Linked DNA regions of Homo sapiens: region 2 is linked to region 1. A link means that fine-mapping ties the variant in region 1 to the expression of a gene that starts in the linked region. Tissue or cell type: whole blood. Region 1 holds a variant in brackets; the other region holds the start of a gene. All regions are shown on one strand. Distances are between the middles of the regions.

Region 1 (8,182 bases):
AACTAATTAAGTTCTTAGTCCAGAAGCACAGGCTTACCATGATTTTAAGATTACAAAATGCTTCTCTTCCCTCAACACCTTACCACTACATTACAAAAGGCAGTTCCTTTTACTCAGTACATCATGTCCACCCTTCAATGTAAAATTATGAGGTATACTAAATGGCAAAAAAAAAAAAGTTTGAACAGACTGAACAAGCATCAGAATCTGAGACAGATACGGTAGGAATGTTGGAATTATCAGTCCAGGAACTTAAGAAACTATGATTAATATGCTAACAGTTTTACTGGGAAAAAGTATACAAGATGCAAGATGAGATGGATAATGTAAGGAGATAAATGAAAATTTTAAGAAAGAATCAAAAGGAAATACTAGAAATAAAAATTCCTGTAATGGGCCAGGTGCAGTGGCTCACGCCTGTAATCCCAGCACTTTGGGAGGTGGAGGCTGGCAGATCACAAGGTCAGGAGATCAAGACCATCCTGGCTAACACAGTGAAACCCGTCTCTACTAAAAATACAAAAAATTAGCCGGGCGTGGTAGCGACTGCCTGTAGTCCCAGCTACTCGGGAGGCTGAGGCAGGAGAATGGCGTGAACCCGGGAGGTGGAGCTTGCAGTAAGCTGAGATCGCGCCACTGCACTCCAGCCTGGGTGACAGAGCGAGACTCCATCTCAAAAGAATTCCTGTAATGAAAATAAAGAATGCCTTCAATGGGCTCATAAGTATTCTGTGTAGATATCTCAATAGAAACGTCCAAAACTGAAAAACAGATAAAATATTGAGGGAAAAAAAAGGAACAGATTATCCAAGAACTGTAGGACAACTACAAATGATGTAATATACGCATAACAGAAATACTAAAAAAGAAGGAAGAACAGAAGCAGTCTTTGAGGAAATAATGACGGAGAATTTCCCCAAATTAATGTCATAAACCAAACCACAGATGGAGGAAACACAGAGAACACCAAGCAAGGTAAGTGCCCTCTCGCCCCTCACAAAAACCCCTACAATTAGGTATATTATATTCCAATTTCAGAAAATCAAATACAAAGAAAAAAGAAGTCAAAGGAAAAAAACCTTACCTATAAAGGAACAAGGCTGGGAATTACAGTAGTCCTCTCCTCTGTAGTTTTTCACCACTTCAGTTACCTTTGTTCAATATTTAAAAGTATTAAATAGAAAATTCCAGAAATAATTCATGTTTAAACTGTACACCATTCTGAGTAGTGTGACGTCTCGCACCATCCTGCTCCACCCCACCCCGAATGTGAATTGTCCTGGCATATCTATGCTGCGAATGCTACCCACCTGTTAGTCACTTAGGAGCTGTCAGATCACCTGATGCAGTATCGTAGTGCTTGTGTTCAACTGACCCTTATTTTACTTAATCATGGCCCCAAAGCACAAGAATAGTGATGCTGACAATTCAGATATGCCAAAAAGAAGCTACAAAGTGCTTCCTTAATGGGAAAATGTGAAATTTCTTCTCCACTCAATAAGGAAAAACTCTCTCATATGCTGAGGTTGCTAAGATTACAGCAGAATGAGTCTTCTATTCATATGAAGAAGAAAAAAAGCAACTCAGCTAGTTTCGCTGTTGCACCTCAAACTGCTAAAGTTGCAACCACAAGTGCATAAGTGCTTAGTTAAGGTGTAAAAGGGCCAGGCAAGGTGGCTCATGCCTGTCATCCCAGAATTTTGGGAGGCCAAGACAAGGGGATTGCCTAAGTGCTTGAGGCCAGAAGTTTGCAACCAGCTGGGCAAGATATGGAGCACCCATCTCTAAAAAAATTTTTTTAAATTAGCCAAGTGTGGTGGTATGCACCTGTGGTCCCAGCTACTCAGGAGGTTGAGGTGAAAGGATCGCTTAAGCCCAGGAGCTCGAGGCTGCAGTGAGCTATGATAACACCACTGCACTCCAGCCTGGGTGACAAAGTAAGACCCTGCCAAAAAAAAAAAAAAAAAAAAAAAAAAACGGAAAAGGCATTAAATTTTTGGATGGAAGACATGAACAGAAACATACTCTAACCAATGGCAATGAGGTTCAATACTATCTGCATTTTCAGGCATCCATCGGAGGTTGTGGAAAATATCCCCTGAAGATAGGGGAGGATTACCGTACATCAGATCTTCTCAGAAACCAAGAAAAAGAACAAGGAGAGTGGAGTGAAATATTTGAAGTGCTGAGAGAAAAAAAAAAAACTCTCAAGCCCACAATTCTGTAGCCTGTGAGATTATCCTTCAAAAGTGAAGGAGAAATTACTCTCTTAGAAAAATAAAAGTTTTTTTAAGGAATTTGTTGCCAGTACACCTGCCCTGCAAGAAATGTTGAAAGAAGTTCTTCAGAGAGGTGGAAAATGATACAGGTCAGAAACTCAGACCTACATGAAGAAAGGAATAGCATTTAAGAAGAAATAAGTAAAAGTAAAATAAATATTTTATTTTTTTAAAAGACAGGGTCTTGCTTTATTGCCCAGGTTACAGAAGAGTGTTGGGATTATATTTCACTAGAGCCTCAAATTCCTGGGCTCAAGCACCTCCCACCCAAGCCTCCCAAAGTACTGAGATTCCAAGTGTGAGCCACTGCACCCAGCCTTAGTTTTCTTATTCTTAATTAACCTCACAGATAACAGCTTGTTCAAAATAATAACAATGTATTGGCCGGGCACAGTGGCTCATGCCTGTAATCCCAGCACTTTGGAAGGCTAAGGCCGGCAGATCACCTGAGGTCAGGAGTTTGAGACCAGCCTGGCCAACACGGTGAAACCCCGTCTCTACTAAAAATACAAAAATTAGCCGGACGTGGTGGTGTGCACCTGTAATCCCAGTTACCCAGGAAGGAAGCTGAGGCAGGACAATGTCTGGAACCCGGGAGGCAGAGGCTGCAGTGAGCCAAGATCATGCCATGGCACTCCAGCCTGGGTGACAGAGCAAGACTCCATCTCAAAAAATAAAATACAAGGCTGGGCACGTTGGCTCACGCCTGTAATCCCAGCACTTTGGGAGGCCGAGGCGGGCAGATCACAAGGTCTAGGAGTTGGAGACCAGCCTGGCCAATATGGTGACACCCCGTCTCTACTAAATATACAAAAATTAGCTGAGCGTGGTGGCTCGCGCCTGTAGTCCCAGCTACTTAGGAGGCTGAGGCAGAAGAATCGCTTAAACCCAGGAGGCGGATGAGCCAAGATAGTGCCACTGCACTCCAGCCTGGGTGACAGAGCAAGACTCTGTCTCAAAAATAAATAAATAAAATAAAATACAAAAAATTAGCCAGGCATGGTGGCACACACCTATAGTCCCAGCTACTCAGGAGGCTGATAGGAGAATCGCTTGGACCCGGGAGGCAGAGGTTGCAGTGAGCCAAGATCGTGCCACTGCACTCCAGCCTGGGCAACAGAGCGAGACTCTGTCTCAAAAAAATAATGATAATAACAATGTATTTTATGATTATAGCTTACATATAAGTGAAATGAATGACAACAGTGATACTAAGGACTGGAGGAAAAAATGAGAAATATTTTATTATAAGGTACTTGCACTACACATGAAGTGGCACAGTATTATTTGAAAGTAGGGTTGGATTATTTATAAATGTAGGCTGGGCAT[A/G]GTGGCTCATGCCTGTAATCCTAGCACTTTGGGAGGCCAAGGCAGGTGGATTACTTAAGGTCAGGAGTTTGAGACCAGCCTGGCCAACATGGCAAAACCCTATCTCTACTAAAAATGCAGACCATTAGCCAGGCATGGTAGCACGCATGCCTGTAATCCCAGCTACTATGGAGGTTGAGGCAGGAGGATCTGTTGAACTCGGGAGGTGGAGGCTGCAGTGAGGAGAGATCATGCCACTGCATTCCAGCCTGGGTGACAGAACAAGACTCCATCTCAAAAAAAAGAATGTATATTGCAAACTTTAGGACAACCATGAGAAAAAGAAGTATAATCAATATGCTAAGAAAGAAGAGAAAATGAAATCATATAAAATGCTCAATAAAAAACACAAAAGGGGGCTGGGTGCGTAGGCTCACGCCTGTAATCCCAGCACTTTGGGAGGTCGAGGTGGGCAGATCACCTGAGGTCAGGAGTTAGAGACCAGCCTGGCCAACATGGTGAAATCCCGTCTCTACTAAAAATACAAAAATTAGCCAGGTGTGGTGGTGGGCACCTGTAATCTCAGCTACATAGGAGGCTGAGGCAGAATTGCTTGAACCCAGGAGGGGGAGGTCGCAGTGAGCCAAGATTGCGCCACTGCACTCCAGTCTGGGCTACAGAGTAAGACTTCATCTCAAAAACACACACACACACACACACACACACACACATGGTTAGATGTGGTGCCTCATGCATATAATCCCAGCACATTGGGAGACTGAGGCAAAAGGATCTCTTGAGCCCAAGAATTTGAGACAGCAGTGAGCTATGATTGTATCATTGCACTCTATCCTGGGAAATGGGGAGATCCTGTCTCTAAAGAAATAAGTAATTTTTTTTTTTTTTTTGAGACAGAGTCTCGCTCTGTTGCCCAGGCTGGAGTGCAGTGGTGTGATCTCGGCTCACTGCAACCTCCGCCTCCCGGGTTCACGCCATTCTCGTGCCTCAGCCTCCCGAGTAGCTGGGACTATAGGTGCCCACCACCACACCTGGCTAATATTTTGTACTTTTAGTAGAGACGAGGTTTCATCATGTTAGCCAGGATGGTCTCAATCTCCTGAACTCATGATCTGCCCACCTTGGCCTCCCATAGTGCCAGGATTACAGGCGTGAGCCACCACACCCAGCCAAAAATTAAATAAATTTTAAAAATGAAGGTCAACAGTCTAAATACACTAACTTAAGACATTGTCAGAGTGCATCACAAAACAAGACCCAACTATATGTTGTGTACAAGAAACCTAGTTTAAATATGAAGATGCATATAGATTTAGAATAAGTGAGTACAGAAAGGTATACCATACTAACACTTATCAAAAGAAAGAGACGTAGCTAAATTAATTTCAGACACAGCAGACTTCAGAGCAAGGTTAAAGAAGAGCATTGCATAATGATAAAGGAGTCAATACTCCAAGAAAGAAATCATAAAAATCCTTAGTGTGCATGTGCCTAACAACAAACCATCAAAATACATTAGGCAGAGCCTGATAAAACAGCAAGGAGAAACAGATGAATGCACTATTACACTTGGGGACTTCAACACCCCTCTTTCAGAACTGGACAGATCCAGCAGGCAGAAAATCGTTAAGAACACAGCTGAACTTAACAGCACCATCAATCAACTGATATCAGTAGACTACTTCATTCAACAGATTACACATTCATCTCCAATTCCCAAGACATTCACGAAGATAGACGCAATTCTTAGTCATAACACACATCTTAACAAATTTCAAAGAATAGAAATCATATAATATGTGCTGTCAGACCACAATGGAATGAAACCAGAAATCAGTAACAGAAAGATTAAAAGGAAAATCTCAAAACACATGGATATTGAACAACACACTTCTAAGTAACACAAACAAGAAATCTGAAACTTAAAAATATGTTGAACTAAATGAAAATGAAAATACAACTTATTTCAGTGGGATAATCAGTGGGATGCAGTGAAAGCAGTGCTTAAAGGAAAATTTATAGCATTGAATTAATATATTAGAAAAAATGTAAATTGTACGGAAAAGAGAGGGAGATCAGACTGTCACTGTACCTATGTAGAAAGGGAAGACATAAGAGACTCCATTTTGAAAAAGACCTGTACTTTAAACAATTGCTTTGCTGAGATGTTGTTAATTTGTAGCTTTCCCCAGCCACTTTGACCCAACCTGGAGCTCACAAAAACGTGTTGTATAAAATCAATGTTTAAGGGATCTAGGGCTGTGCAGGACGTGCCTTGTTAACAAAATGTTTACAAGCAGTATACTTGGTAAAAGTCATCGCCATTCTCTAGTCTCAATAAACCAGGGGCACATGCACTGCAGAAAGCCACAGGGACCTCTGCCCTTGGAAGCGGGGTATTGTCCAAGGTTTCTCCCCATGTGATAGTCTGAAATATGGCCTCGTGGGATGAGAAAGACCTGACCATCCCCCAGCCCGACACCCATAAAGGGTCTGTGCTGAGGTGGATTGGTAAAAGAGGAAAGCCTCTTGCAGTTGAGATAGAGGAAGGCCACTGTCTCCTGCCTGCCCCTGGGAACTGAATGTCTCGGTATAAAACCCGATTGTACATTTGTTCAATTCTGAGATAGTAGCAAAACCGCCCTATGGTGGGAGGCGAGATATGTTTGCAGTAATGCTGCCTTGTTATTCTTTACTCCGCTGAGATGTTTGGGTGGAGAGAAACATAAATCTGGATTACGTGCACATCCAGGCATAGTACCTTCCCTTAAACCTAATTATGACATAGATTCTTTTGCTCACATGTTTTTTGCTGACCTTCTCCTTATTATCACCCTGCTCTCCTACTACATTCCTTTTTGCTGAAATAATGAAAATAATAATAAAAACTGAGGGAACTCAGAGGCCGGTGCTGGTGCAGGTCCTTGGTATGCTGATGCCGGTCCCCTGGGCCCACTGTTGTTTCTCTATACTTTGTCTCTGTGTCTTCTTTCTTTTCTCAGTCTCTCATCCCACCCGACTAGAAATACCCACAGGTGTGGAGGGGCAGGCCACCCCTTCATCTGGCGCCCGATGTGGGGGCCTTTCTCTAGGGTGAAGGTATGCTAAGAACGTGAGCATTGAGGACAGCCGACGAGAGATTCCCAAGTACATCCACAGTCAGCCTTGCGGTAAGCTTGTGCGCTCGGAGGAATCCAGGGTAACAATGGGGCAAACTGCAAGTAAATATGCCTCTTATCTCAGCTTCATTAAAATTCTCTTAAGAAGAGGGGGAGTTAAAGCTTCTACAGAAAATCTAATTACGCTATTTCAAACAATAGAACAATTCTGCCCATGGTTTCCAGAACAGGGAACTTTAGATTTAAAAGATTGGGAAAAAATTGGCAAAGAATTAAAACAAGCAACTAGGGAAGGTAAAATCATCCCACGTGCAGTATGGAATGATTGGGCTATTATTAAAGCAACTTTAGAACCATTTCAAACAGAAGAAGTTAGAGTTTCAGTTTCTGATGCCCCTGAAAGCTGTGTAATAGATTGTGAAGAGGCAGAAACAGAGTTCAAGAAAGGAACAGAAAGTTCACATGGTAAAAATGTAGCAGAGCCAGTAATGGCTCGGTCAACGCAAAATGTTGACTACAATCAATTACAGGAGGTAATATATCCTGAAACATTAAAATTAAAAGGAAAAAGTCCAGAACCATCAGGGCTGTTGGGGTTAAAAGCACGATGGCCACCTCCTCCTCAGCCGAGTGAGTGCTGGGGGAGGGAGCCTGAAACTACGCTTGCTGCGACTTGGCTCGTGGCACTCATTATTGCCCAACCTGCAGTTCACTACGGTGAAGGAGCAATTCAGACTTGCCCTGCAGCTTCCTGTATGGGTCAAAGAGTGGCCGCTCTCTAAGGAAAAGTTGGGGGTGTTACATAAAATAGTTAAAAAACTATTTTAAATAGGATGTGTTCCACCCACTTTCTCTCTTTAGAATTCTCCTGTGTTTGTAATTCAGAAAAAATCAGGCAGATGGTGCATGCTAACTGATTTGAGAGCCATTAATGCAGCAATTCAACCCATGGGGCCTCTCCAACCTGGGCTGCCCTCTCCGGCCATGACCCCCAAAGATTGGCTTTTAATTATAATTGATTCAAAGGATTGCTTTTTTACCATTCCTGTGGCAAAACAGGATTTTGAAAAATTTGCTTTTACTATACCAGCCGTAAATAATAAAGAACCAGCCACCAGATTTCAGTGGAAAGTGTTGCCTCAGGGAATGCTTAATAGTCCAACTATTTGTCAGACTTTTGTAGCTCAAGTTCTTCAACCAATGAGAGACAAGTTTTCAGACTGTTGTATTATTCATTATGTTGATAATATTTTGTGTGCTCCAGAAACCAGAGACAAATTAATTGACTGTTACACATTTCTGCAGACAGAGGTTGCAAACGCAGGCCTGACAATATCATCTGATAAAATTCAGACCTCCACTCCTTTTCATTATTTGGGAAAGACCAACAGAGAGAAAAGTAAAACTGGGGAGAAAAAGAGAAAGAAAAAGAGACTAAGTGTGAAGGAGAGAGGACAC
Region 2 (8,182 bases), 33 kb before region 1:
GGTCACAAAAAATATTTATAATCACTCCATTTTTCTTCTGAGGCAAAGTCAAAACATAGTGCCAGAGAAAGGGAGACTATTTTTATTTTGGTAAACTCTTAAGGACAGAGGGCTATATTAGTTTTCCATTGCTGCCAATTATCAAAACTTTGTGGTTTTCAACAACACACATTTGTTACATAACAATTCTGGAGGTCAGAAGTCTGATACAGGTTTCGGAGGGCTAAAATTAAGGTGTTGGCAGAGCTGTGTTCCTTCTGGAGGCTCTAGAGAAGAATCTATTTCCTTGCCCCCGTCCAGTGTCTAGGACCATCTACACTCCTTGGCTCCTGACCCTTCCTCCACCTGCAAGGCCAGCAATGATACATTTCTCTGTGCCTTTCTTTCATGGTTATATTTCCCTGATTGCTAACCTTCTTATCCCCCTTTTACTTTTTTTTTTTGAGAGGGAGTCTTGCTCTGTTGCCCAGGCTGGAGTGCAGTGAAGCAATCTCGGCTCATTGCAACCGCCGCCTCTTGGGTTCAAGTGATTCTCCTGCCACAGCCTCCCATATAGCTGGGATTACAGGCGCCCACCACCACACTCAGCTAATTTTTTTTTTTTTTTTTTTGTATTTTTAGTAGCGACAGGGTTTCACCAAGTTGGCCAGGCTGGTCTCGAACTCCTGACCTCAGGTGATCTCCCCACCTTGGCCTCCCAAAGTGCTGGGATTACAGGCGTGAGCCACCGTGCCCGGCCACCCAGCTCTTTTACTTTTAAGGACCCCTGTTATTACACTAAGCCCACTGAAATAATCCAGGATAATCTCTCCCCATCTTGAGATCCTTCATTGAATCACAACTGCAAATTTTATTTTGCAGTATAAGGTAAAATATTCCCAGGTGCTGGGGATATCTCTGGGGAGCCATTATTTTGGCTGCCACAAGGGCAGAGATGGGCTGAAAAGAAGCTCCAAGTATCGGCAAGAAGGCTATGAAAGTTACTATTTGAGGCACACGCAGTTCCAAAGCACAGCTCCAATCAAACACTTAGCGTACAAGTTTCACAACAACGTTCTGGACCCTTTTCAACTTAACTCCCACTACACTTGCCCCATATTCTCTAAGGATCACTTTAATGCCATCTATGCTGTGACGCCTTCCCACTATCTCAGAGAGGATCAGTGGTTCTATCATCCGTAAACATGAAGGACTCTGCCCATGCCCTATTCCAGCACTTCAACGCTGCCTTACGGTACCAAGATTTGTCTGTCTCCCTTATGAGATAGTGAACCACTTAAGAATTAGGACAATCTCATTCTAAATCCTGGGAAGAGGCTAGCAAAGTGCTTAGCACTTCATATTCATTCACTCTGACATGTGACTATACTTAACCAGCACTCACATTGACAGGTACAACCTCGTCAGGAACCGCATTTCACTTGGGGACATGGAGTACATGTTCATTAATAAAGAGAACAGGGTCTCTTCAAGTTCTGAATAGGTTTACCAGTATTTGCTTCAGCAAAGGGCAAGGTATGATCAGCAAAAAGGACCCAGCAGCCACAAAGTTAAAACTCGGTAACCAATAGACATGGCAAAGATATACTTAAAGATACAAAAGGCAAAGATCCTGCATCTGTCAAAACTCAGCAAATGTACACTTAAGATTTGCGCTTTTCATGTTATGTAAATTTTACATCTAAAGAAAAATCTAAACAAATATAGAATTCTAATTAATAATACATACGTATTCTGAAATTTTTAAGGAATACGTACCCATGTCAATTTACTTTGAAAAAAATTTAAAAATACAATGAACTGATGGATAAAAAGAGGGACAGATGGGTATGTGTTAAAATTAGGTACAGTAAAATATTAATGGTAGAGTCTAGATGGGAAGGTTTATAAGTATTCACTGTAAACTTCTTTTAATTTAGCTGTATGCTCAAAATTCTTCATAATAAAATTTTGAACAGGAAATGTTAGGATCAGTCAGCAAGGAGATATTGTGTGGAAAGAGGAAAAAATAATGCTCTTGGATGTTCATTACGAGTCAAAGAGGCACATACACAGACAAAGGTGGCCTATATCATATCTTGTCCCAACCTTGCTTCATAGCCAGAAGAATTAAAAGCCCTGGCTGACATGAGACATGCTAGAAAGAGTACTGCTGATGAAAGTAAAAGAGTCTCTTGTAGGCACAACAGAGATATTAACAATAAGAAATTTCTTTTTCCTTAAAATACTTTTTTTTTGAGACGGAGTTTCGCTCTTGTTGCTCTTGTTAATTTAAGATGTGTATCTCAAATCTCTGCCCTTGTGACTGGCATATGTTAATTAGCTGGGCATGGTGGCTGGCGCCTGTAATCCCAGCTACTAGGGAGGTTGAGGCAGGAGAATTGCTTGAACCCAGGAGGCAGAGGTTGCAGTGAGCCAAGATCGAGCCATTGCACTCCAGCATGGGCAACAAGAACAAAACTCTATCTCAAAAAAAAAAAAAAAAATTCTCAGATTTTCTTGACAATTGAATATAATCTATAAACAGAACTGTTTTTATTCTTACTCATCCTTTATTCTTCTAGTAAGAATTGCCTAGTAAGGTTTTGAAGTTTTTCTCATATAGTTCACATATATTTCTAGCTAAAATTATTTTCTTCCTATTGTGAAGACTTTTTAAAAATAAAAGTATGTGCTAACTTGTTGAGGACGGCAATCAATCTATTAGCTTATATATTTCCTTTTCAGTCACTTTACTACAAATTATTGATAGTAATTGAATCTCTTCTCATTTTGGGGACTTAATTAGTTAATTAATTAACAAGGATAATTTTGTAATCTCTTTTCCAGAAGGTAAGCCTCATATCTACTTAAATATTGTCCTAAGTAGAATTTCCAGACAGTGCTTATATAAAATACTGATAAGCAGAAATTCTCATTTAATTTATGATGTGTATCTCAAATCTCTGCCCTTGTGACTAGCATATACTAAGAGCTAAAGAAATGCATGCTGAGAGAAGTAATCAAAAAACAAATGTAACTTTCAAAAAGAGGCAGGAGCGTGTGCAACTTACCATCCAAGAGGCTTTGGAAGATGGGGGACAATTTTAGTAAAACAGAAGAGATTAGTTATGTCACAAGAGAAAAGTTAGTGTGGAGGTAATTTTCAAAAGGGTAGGGAGGATTTGTGCTATCCAGTTCTCGGAGACCTAACTGCAGTCATTTCTAACCTAATAACACTTGTTGGCTGGCATTCTGGGTGACATCCTGCCTTCCCTTTTACTTTTTTTTTTTTAATTAACAGTATCTTTCTGCAATTAATGTATAGCTGGAATTGAAATTGTTCACCTTCTGCATACACTTTGGGTGGGATCTACGTACGAAATCTTGATGTTAACCTTATCTTTGACACTCATATTATGTGTTAGATGGCGTATATATATCTAGTGTCAAGGGAAAATAAAAATATAGTAATTAAACTTATGATCTGTCTCTGAAAATAAAAAAAATAGATTAACCACACAAACACGCCTTCAGTTAATCTATCTGATTAAAAAACAAAACAAAGATGAGGAAGCTAAGAGCTAGAGATGCAGGATTTGTTTTTAAAAGACCACACACGAATCGGCGTCACTATTTCAACAAATACTAGAAAGGCCATATGCAAAATTTTAAACATCTATCCCAGCTGGGGGGAAAAATGGAAGTTAGACTAGAAGAAACCTTATTTTGTATTACTGAAAATATCTGGTTCAAACTTACCACCACCGCCGCCCACTCTGCGTCAATCTCCAGGTGCAGCCGTTATTCTCCACAGAACAAGAACGTCCGCCGTGAACGCCGGGGCCGCGCGAGGGACAGAAAGTGACTGAGGCAAGGGGTGACGATCACCGTTAAATTTTTTCATTGACGAAATTACCGTCTACCTAGAAATACGAAGCTAATACACTGCTACATTACTAAAGGGCTCAACACGCGCCTGATGACGATGCAAACACAAAATTCAGCACTTTCGTATATACCTGCAATAAGCAACTAGAAGGTTCGATGGGAGAAAGCGATCCCGTCACAAAGGCAGCAGCAACAGCAAAACAGAGAACGCGACTCCATTCACCAGCGGAGCGCGAAGAGCGGCGTCAGAGGTGAGTCTGAGGCCGGCTCGGCACGGCGGCGCCACCTCCCCGTGGCCTGACGTCACGCACGCGCACGCGCCCCGCCCCCATTGGTCCTACGCCCGCCCCTGCTGCGAACGCACGCACACGCACCCACAACACACACCGTTACGCACGCGCCCCAGCCTGGCGTTCAGGCCACGCTCCGCCCCCAGCCCGTCAGCCGCGCGCCCCGGGACCCTAGAGCCGGCGATTCGTCGCCGGCGCCGCAGCCGCCACTCTGTGCCGGACCCTGCGGGCCTTCGGCCCAGAGCGCGTCCGTGACGCACAGACCAGGCCCCTCTGCGGGGCGGCGCAGGAGCTCCTGGGAAACGTAGTTCGGCCTCGCGTCCCCCTCGGGCGGGACCGCGGACGCCTGGAGGCAGGCACTGAGGACGGGTGAGCATGCGGGCCTGTGGCTCGTTCACCCGGGACAAGTCCCTCGTGGGATCAGCCTGGCCCGCTGAGTTCTCCTGCGTGCAGGGATCGCCTCACGGGAGTCTGAGCAGCAGGGAGCCTGCCCGGGAGGCGGCGGTGGGAGAGGCCCTTGAGGGAGGAGGGGCTACTTACCGGGTGCGAGTGGAGCGCGGGGAGCGAGTGGGGACCAGGGGCGCGCGGGGCGGAGGGGTCCCGGGCTGGCTGCGGGTGCCACGCAGGGAGCGCTGGGGGGCCGGGGATGCGCGTTTGCCTCCTTCTCTAAGCAACACGGGAGGGCTAAAGGGTGCACGCCTCTGTCCAGCAGCCTCTCTTGAATCTCTAAACCTAGTAATGAGTTGAATCACAGCCATCGTTTTTTTCACCTATTGCCTTATACTGTGGTTGAATGCGATATGGTTTTATTTCTTTAATACTCTGGTGTATTCAATTGGCTGTTTCCCTTTGACTTCACCTATGCTCACAAGATTGTGTTTTAATCTTTTTGTGTACTATCCTTGCCCGTTATACTAACAAGATTTTACAAGCTTCATGAATAATTTGGACAGCACAGTCTCTCTTCTATTCTGTAAAACAGGTCACCACCCCTCACCGCCCCCCGCCCGCCTCCAAAAGTTTGGTGCTATTTGGTCTTAAAATATTTAGTACGCATTTAACTTCTGACTCAATTTTTTTTTTTTTTTTTTTTGAGACAGAGTTTCGCTCTTTGTTGCCCAGGCTGGAGTGCAATGGCGCCATCTTGGCTCACAGCAACCTCCGCCTCCCGGGTTCAAGTGATTCTTCTGCCTCAGTCTTGTGAGTTGCCGGGATTACAGACATGAGCCACCACGCCCAGCTAATTCTGTATTTTTAGTGGAGATGGGGTTTCTCCATGTTGGTCAGGCTGGTCTGGAACTCCCGACCTCAGGTGATCAGCCTGCCTCGGCCTCCCAAAGCGCTGAGATTACAAGCGTGAGCCACCGCACCCGGCCCTGACTCAATTTTTTAAAAAGTCTCATTGATTAGGTTTTTTAGTTCGTATTCTGTTTTAGATACCTTTCCTAGATAATTGTTTTTAATCTAATTTTTCAAATTTATTGGCATAAAATTGCCCATGCTATTTTATCACTGTAAGTAATTTCTATGGTGATTTTTAAAATCACCACTTTTTAATATTTTACTGCTGTAATTGTTATTTTTTTCTTTTTTGAACCTAATTATCTAGGCCTTTTTTTCTTGATTACTCCTATAAGGTATATGTGTACATAGTCTTTTCAAAAATGTAGATTTGGTTTTGGTTTTTTTGTTGTTTTGTTTTGGTCTTTTTTGGGGAGGGGGGTCCTATTACAGTAAGTTTTGCTCTTAATTTTTAAATTTTTCTTTTACTTTGTCTCTGTTTTTCTACTTTTTTTTTTTTTTCGAGACAGAGTTTCACTCTGTCTCCAGGCTGGAGTGCAGTGGCGTGATCTCGGCTCACTGTAGCCTCTACCACCCGGATTCAAGCGATTCTCCTGCCTCAGGCCCCACCACGCCCGGCTAATCCAGCTAATTTTTGTTTTTGTTTGTTTGTTTGTTTTTGAGACAGAGTCTCTCTCTCTCGCCCAGGCGGGAATGCAATGGCAGGATCTCTGCTCACTGCAACTTCCACATCCCGGGTTCAAGCCATTCTCCTGCCTCAGCCTCTGGAATAGCTGGGATCACAGGCGCACACTGCCATGCCCGGTTAATTTTTTGTATTTTTTAGTAGAGACGGGGTTTCACGGTGTTGCCCAGGCTGGTCTCGAACTCTTCAGCTCAGGCAATCCGCCCGCCTTGGCCTCCCAAAGTGCTAGGATTACAGGCGTGAGCCACCGTGCCTGGCCATCTGCTTCTTGATTTGACTGGGTAATTAATTTACTACTCTTTATTTGTGCTCCAAGAAATGTGTGTGTACATTTTTAAGAGCTGAATATGTTAAAAGACTCATAATAAAAACAGGAAACACCTTAACCCCATCTCTTCCCAGTGGCAACCACTTGGAAATATTTAAGCAGTTCTGGCTTCGAACTCCTCTCAGTATTTTTTTATTCACCGATTTGTGACATTATTTTAAAATTTTTATCATGTTAAATAAGAACTTTGGCTGCCTTCTTTCTACATCCTTAAATCACAATGTAATTATTTTACAAATATTATAATGTAGTTCTCCCACAAATTTTGGATAAATATGTTCAGTGTTTTCATTTGATGACTACTCTTTAGTACTGAGCCATAATATGTTTCTTTCTTGTGCAAGGTTTACCTTTCTTGTTTTTAATGACTGCCTTTTTTATTCATTTGCTTAGTTTTTCTTAAATCTATGTAAAATGTCTTTTGGTTCCATTTTCCTCAAGGGCTAATCTGTCATACAGTCTTATCACTTTTCTCCTTTCCTGGACATCCCCCTGCAATGTAGATTGATCAGTTACTCTGTAGGCATGCAGCACGCTGGCATACCACTGGGCTTCCCTTTTGCCCTCATCAATTTCCTCATCTCACCTCTGTGTTAAATCTCCTGTTTCCTGTAAAGCACTTCTATTCCTGTTTGGTGGATTGTAATCTTAACTGCCTTGAAGAAAGGGTCCATATGATCTACATATATTAAAGTTGTAGAAATGATTAGAAATTACTTTTTCCTCACATTTGTGTGGTGTTTTCACCGAGTATACACATCTCAATAGGAAATTACTTTCCATTAGAATTTTGAAAGCCAGTGAAGCTAGATAGGAAATGGAGCAGTGTTACTGTTACTGTTGAGAAGTCCTATTTCATACCTTGTTCTTTTATGTGTAATCTGTTTATCATCTCTTGGAGCTCTTTGGTATTCAAAAATTTCATGATGATGTGTGTTCTAATTATTTAAAGAAATTACTTGCTTTGATGGATCAGTTCTTAGATACTGTGTTTTTTTAAGGAATAAGAAGTTTCTGGCCGGGCACCGTGGCTCACGCCTGTAATCCCAACATTTTGGGAGGCCGAGGTGGGTGGATCATGAGGTCAGGAGTTCAAGACCAGGCTGGCCAAGATGGTGAAACCCCATCTCTACTACTAAAAATAAGAAAATTAGCCGGGCGTGGTGGCCGGCGCCTGTAATCCCAGCTACTTCGGAGGCTGAGGCAGAGAATTGCTTAAACCCGGGAGGCAGAGGTTTCAGTGAGCCGAGATTGTGCCACTGCACTCCAGCTTGGGCGACTCCGTCTCAAAAAAAAAAAAAAAAAAAAAAAGTTTTCCTGTACTTGTTTGTTTCTTCCTCTTGTTTTTTCTTTCTGGAACTCTGAGTAATCTGGGGTACCTTAAATTGCTCATATAGTGGTCTTTTTTTATTTATTCTTACTTTTTCTTTTAGATCAGCTTTACTTATTTATTCATTTATTTATTGAAACAGAGTCTCACTGTGTTGCCCAGGCTGGAGTGCAGTGGCACATCTCGGCTCACTGCAGCCTCCACCTCTTGGGTTCAAGCATTTCTCCTGCTTCAGCCTCCCGAGTAGCTGGGATTACAGGTGTGCACCAACACATCTAGCTTTTTTTTTTTTTTGTATTTTTATTTGAGACGGGGTTTCACTGTGTTGGCCAGGCTGGTCTTAGAATTCTGACCTGAAGTGATTCGCCTACCTCGGC

What was found. PIP is the estimated chance that this variant, and not a neighbour inherited with it, causes the effect.
Region 2: ZNF10 starts here. The variant in region 1 is fine-mapped to the expression of ZNF10 in whole blood (TOPMed, PIP above 0.99).

Annotation. Positions count from the first base shown.
Region 1 is chr12:133,093,956-133,102,137 of GRCh38, reverse strand. The region is part of intron 4 of ZNF140 (zinc finger protein 140); the gene reads right to left. Among named protein-coding and RNA genes, the nearest start is that of ZNF140, 17 kb to the right of the region's middle. The variant A/G (reference allele first, on the strand shown) is at 3,609.
Region 2 is chr12:133,126,574-133,134,755 of GRCh38, reverse strand. ZNF10 (zinc finger protein 10) reads right to left here and starts at 4,129. Exons shown (of 5, transcript NM_015394.5): 1 at 4,002-4,129. It overlaps ZNF891 (zinc finger protein 891), which reads left to right and starts at 4,482. Exons shown (of 2, transcript NM_001277291.2): 1 at 4,482-4,529. RefSeq lists enhancers at 2,495-2,664, 3,747-4,026 and silencers at 4,077-4,316, 4,687-4,866.